2 separate regions of the Homo sapiens genome follow, and region 1 is linked to region 2. A link means that fine-mapping ties the variant in region 2 to the expression of a gene that starts in the linked region. Tissue or cell type: whole blood. Region 2 holds a variant in brackets; the other region holds the start of a gene. All regions are shown on one strand. Distances are from middle to middle.

What was found. PIP is the estimated chance that this variant, and not a neighbour inherited with it, causes the effect.
Region 1: ELF4 starts here. The variant in region 2 is fine-mapped to the expression of ELF4 in whole blood (TOPMed, PIP above 0.99).

The regions. Positions count from the first base shown.
Region 1 is chrX:130,109,379-130,112,056 of GRCh38, reverse strand. It overlaps ELF4 (E74 like ETS transcription factor 4), which reads left to right and starts at 1,560. Exons shown (of 9, transcript NM_001421.4): 1 at 1,560-1,732. It also overlaps a transcript of RAB33A not described here. RefSeq lists silencers at 829-948, 1,019-1,068, 1,079-1,128, 1,379-1,528, 1,609-1,678.
Region 2 is chrX:130,065,921-130,068,598 of GRCh38, reverse strand. It overlaps ELF4 (E74 like ETS transcription factor 4), which reads left to right. Exons shown (of 9, transcript NM_001421.4): 9 at 1,074-2,678. The coding sequence ends at 1,878. Among named protein-coding and RNA genes, the nearest start is that of ELF4, 43 kb to the left of the region's middle. The variant G/A (reference allele first, on the strand shown) is at 1,395.

The sequences.
Region 1 (2,678 bases), 43 kb before region 2:
GGAGAAGCAGGCCGATGCTGGAGGCTGAGTAGGTCCTTCAACCTCAAGCCCTTTAGAAGGCCCCATCCCCTGGGGCTCCTTCAGTCTTGATGCTTTCTGCCAAGGCTTAGGCCTTGCTGCCCCCACCCCCAAAAAGGCCACGTGGAACTATACAGAGTAACAATTCCCAGCGCACTCTCTCCAGAGCCTCCTATCAGCAGACCCACGTAGGCGGCGGTATTGATGTTGAGGCAGGTCAGAGAGGGCAAAGGGGAGATAGAAGGGGAGCGTGCCTGAGTGGCTTTCAAGTGGGCGCGTGGAGCAGAGCAGCCTGGCTTTGGACAGGGGAAGAAAGGTAGGCATGGGCTTTCTTCCAGCACCCGAACTCTGGCTCTCTTTGCACTTGCTGGGCCAGCCCCTCTCCCCCTAGCCCTTCCCCTGACTCATATCTTGCCAGCGTCCCCCACCCCAACTTCCCGCAGGAGTCCTAGACTCGACTTCCCTAAGAAGTCGCCGAAACTCTCCAGTCACCCCAGGTGTTACGCCCAGGATTCTGCGGAGTCGGGCATATGGTTCCAAAATTGTATCCTCTGGGCATCTCGCGGCCTCACCCGCCGCACGGCCCGCCCTCCCGCTGGGGCCTGCACACCCCAGGAGCTCAATAATGTGGAGCGCAGGGCTTGGCCCAAAGGCGTCAAGCAAGTCTCCACTTGCACGGGCCGAGGGGGCTGGACGAAACCTTCCCGAGTCCGCGGGGAAGGGATTTCTCTGCGGGGCGTTGTATGGGGGCTTCGCACCGGGAAGGGCGCGGAACGAGCAGAGAGCTCGGAGTCTCGCTGGCTAGAAGCAGAGTGGGGAGCGCCCGCCCGGGCCGCGGCGCACGACGCGGGCTCTGCGGGCGCCCTGCCTCGTGGTCCCCCGGGCGCGAGCGAGCCGCGAGGGGAATGAGAGGCCGCGCGGGCCCCTGGCACGGCTCCCCATGCCGTGCTGGCGACCGCGGCGGGCGGGCCGGGGCGGACGGGCGCTGTTTCCACCGAGATGCCTCGTCCCTCCCTCGTTCCCTCCCCCACCCCGCCCGCCCGCAGTCCCTCCCGTCGGTCCCTCCCTCCGGCTCTTCCCTCCCTCCCGCCCTGCCTCCTTCGCGCCCGCCCCATCCGCCGCCTGCGGGGACGTGTGTGTCTCTACTGCATTTCCCCTTTCGCTCGCTCGTTTCGGTGCATGTCTGCGCCGGTTCGCGCCCCCTCCCCGGGCGCCCCTGCCGCCCCGTGTCTTGGCCCGGCCCTCCCCGGCGTCCGCCCCGCTCCCCGCGCGCTCCACCCCGCCCCCCGCCCCGTTTTATCAGGGGCGCCGCCGTCTCACCTGGTATTTGCATCTCTCCCTCCAACTTGCCATTGGCGGCGCGAAGTGTGGGAGAGCCCTGCGCCTCGCCCGCCCGGACCAGCCTGCCCCGGCGCCGAGGTGAGTCACGGGCGCGGGGTGGCGGGGGCAGGCGGGCGGGGAAGAAGGGCGGGCGGGGAGGAGGGCGGGGGACGGCGGCCCCGGCGGCCGCGGGGACCGACCGGGCGCCGCGCTCAACTTCCACTTCTCCTTTCGCCGGCGCCGAGTTCCTGGCGCCGCTCGCCCGGCCCGGCTTCCGAGGGGAGAGGACGGGCTGGCGGGGCTGGGGACCCGCGTCTCGGCCCCCGGAGCGGGGACCACGGAGACAGACCCCGGCCCGGCGACCGAGCTGGGCCCGTGAGCCACTCGGCCTCAGGTACGTCGATGGCGCCGGTTCTTCGAGCCTTGGGGGACGTGGAAAAGTTTGCTTGAGGGCGGAATCGAGAGCGCCGGGGCCCCGGCGTGGGGCTGGGGGCCCAGGGAAGGGCGGGAGAGTCGCGGAGTGTCGCGAGCCGCCCTGGAGTCGCCCCGCCGCGCGTGTGATGGAGAACCCGGGCTCCCGATCCCGGGATGGAAGTGGAATGGATTCCCCGAGTCGGGGAGTCGGGGTAGGGGCCCCTGTTTTCCCTCGCCCCCGGCAGCCTGGGTTCCGTGACGGGGCCGATCATGACAGCGGGCCCCCAGAAGCTGGGCGCCCGAGGGCAGAGGAGGTGGGGCGGACCGCGGCGGAGCTGCTAGATGGATCCGACTGCCCCCGGGGCTTCTGGGGCCAGGGCTTTAGGGTCACACGCACACACGCGCACGCAGACCTATGATGTGGAGAACTGGATCGCCAAAATAGAGACCTCTTGGCAGGGGCCGGAGTTTCCGTGTGAGCCAGCCGCCAGCCTTCCCGCTCCCGCGTTCCCGCTCTCCCCGACTCTCCCGCCTCCGGGTTCCCTCCTGGGCCGCCGCCTAGGGGATTCAGCAGCCGCACCGTGCGGGGTCCCCTCACGCCAGCGCCTTGCTTTGGAGGCTTGAGGGACTGCTGAGGCGGTGACCGCTTTATGAATTCCTGGCTCCTCCACCGCACCCTAACCCTGACTCCCTTTTCTCACCACCGTATGCCTGCACATCACCTTCCTGACCAGAGTCACCTCCTGACCCCTTGGCACCTCGGCTCAGCGAGGTCCTCCTGGGCCGCCCCCGCCCCGCACCATACCCCAGCTGAGGGATTTGATGGCCATTTGATTCCTGCCCCTCATCCCTCGGCCTGTGATAGAGGCCTGTCTGGTCCTGCAGCCTCTTCTGGTTAATGTTTGACAGTTCATTGTGGCTAATTA
Region 2 (2,678 bases):
TTGGACTTTGTTGGGTTATGTGTTTGGACCTCCCACTACACTGGCACAGTGAGACACCCTTTCGAGGAGGGCAGGCAGTCACTACGCTGGCGCAGTGAGACACCCTTTCGAGGAGGGCAGGCAGTAGAGTGGAATGGTGAGGAAGATGAGCTCTGGGATCACAAGACCTAGTTGTGAGGCCCTGCTGTAGTGCTTACTATGTATACTGGCTGTGTAATCACTAGAGCGGGGACTCACATCAAGGCCTTGTGAGACCCCAGCATCCCCACTTGGAAGAAATCAAAGGATAACATAGGTATGGCTGGTCTTGGAGCAAGTTATTAATACATAACCTCTCTGTGCCTCACTTTCCTCAAGCTGTAAAATCAGATTGTTCTTATCCCACTTGTGGGCTGTTTTCAGGATTGAGTGAAATGCCACATGTCAATCATTTAGAATGATCCCTGACCTATATACCTATTCTAAGTACTTAATAAATGTGAGCTACAGCTGAGCATGGTGGCTCACACCTGTAATCCCAGCACTTTGGGAGGCCGAGGCAGGTGGATCACCTGAGGTCAGGAGTTCAAGACCAGCCTGGCCAACATGGTGAAACTCTGTCTCTACTAAAAATACAAAATTAGCCGGGTGTAGTGGTGCTCGCCTATAATCCCAGCTACTTGGGAGGCTGAGGCAGGAGAATCACTTGAACCTCAGAGGCAGAAGTTGCAGTAAGCCAAGATTGCACTACTGCACTCCAGCCTGAGTGACAGAGCAAGACTCCGTCTCAAAAAAAAAAATAAATTAAAAATTAGCTGGGTGTGGTGGCACACACCTGTAGTCCCAGCTACTTGGGAGGCTGAGTCAGGAGGATCGCTTGAGCCCAGGGCTTCAAGGCTGCAGTGAGCAGTAATCGTGTCACTGCACTCCATCCCGGGCAGCAGAGTGAGACCCTGTCTCTAGAAAAAGAAAAAAACAACAAACAGCAAATAAATCGACAAACACCTTCAGCTCCATTCCTCTCGTGCCCTCCTTCCTAACCAGCTGAGGGACACTTCCTGCCTTAACCAACTCTGTTCTCTGTTTCTTCTCAGTGCATCTTCAGTGCCCAGCAACATCCACCTAGGAGTGGCCCCCGTGGGGTCGGGCTCGGCCCTGACCCTGCAGACGATCCCACTGACCACGGTGCTGACCAATGGGCCTCCTGCCAGTACTACTGCTCCCACTCAGCTCGTTCTCCAGAGTGTTCCAGCGGCCTCTACTTTCAAGGACACCTTCACTTTGCAGGCCTCTTTCCCCCTGAACGCCAGTTTCCAAGACAGCCAGGTGGCAGCCCCAGGGGCTCCACTGATTCTCAGTGGCCTCCCCCAACTTCTGGCTGGGGCCAACCGTCCGACCAACCCGGCGCCACCCAC[G/A]GTCACAGGGGCTGGACCAGCAGGGCCCAGCTCTCAGCCCCCTGGGACTGTCATTGCTGCCTTCATCAGGACTTCTGGCACTACAGCAGCCCCTAGGGTCAAGGAGGGGCCACTGAGGTCCTCCTCCTATGTTCAGGGTATGGTGACGGGGGCCCCCATGGAGGGGCTGCTGGTTCCTGAAGAGACCCTGAGGGAGCTCCTGAGAGATCAGGCTCATCTTCAGCCACTTCCAACCCAGGTGGTTTCCAGGGGTTCCCACAATCCGAGCCTTCTGGGCAACCAGACTTTGTCTCCTCCCAGCCGCCCCACTGTTGGGCTGACCCCAGTGGCTGAACTTGAGCTCTCCTCAGGCTCAGGGTCCCTGCTGATGGCTGAGCCTAGTGTGACCACATCTGGGAGCCTTCTGACAAGATCCCCCACCCCAGCCCCTTTCTCCCCATTCAACCCTACTTCCCTCATTAAGATGGAGCCCCATGACATATAAGCAAAGGGGTCAGGGCAAGTGTGACCCACCAGGCAAAATTGAGCAGCATTTTCATAGGGACCGACTTCAGTAGCACACCTGCCCCTGCATTTCAGTGGGATGTCAATACACTTGACCCCAAGTCCCCCGGCCCTGCCTGGTGTCACTGTGGCCAAACAGTGCCCAGCTTAAGCATCCCTGGCATCAGACTATGGCCTTCAAGAGCACTAGGGCATATGCTTTTGGCAGCATAACGGGCTGACTTGGTGATGGAGGGAAAAAGCCTTGAGCCAGGCAGAAGTTTGTGGCCAGGGTTTGTGCAGCAGCTTTGTGAGAAGAGCCCTTCTACCTGGCTCTATCTCACTGGCTGCATTCCCTACACAGGGAATTTACTACCCTATATGTGAATATCCCTGTATGTACTTGTGTGTACTTGTTGGTCTGTATCTTAGTTTCTTTGGGGAGGACAGGGCTGTAGCTGTGAGGTCTTGTCTCCAAGGGTGTGTGTATGTCTCCGTGGATCAGCCACAGGGATAGGGATTTTGTTTTTAAGGGAAAGCATTCTCTAATTCCCTTTGTTCATGCCGAGATTCAGTTGCTCTGAGACTATGGGGTACAAGTTTGATCCTCCGAATCTGGAGATGTTGTAGAGCTGGAACGAGTGCAGAGTAGGAACGCTTTGATGCGCATGCACATTGGGGAAGATGCGCTCCTCAGGGACACAAAGGCCGAGTGGGGTAAAACCACGAAGGGAGGGAAGGGAAGTCAGCTCTGGGAGCAGCCCTCACTGGCTGGACCAAGGTACTCTTCCTGGAGTTTGC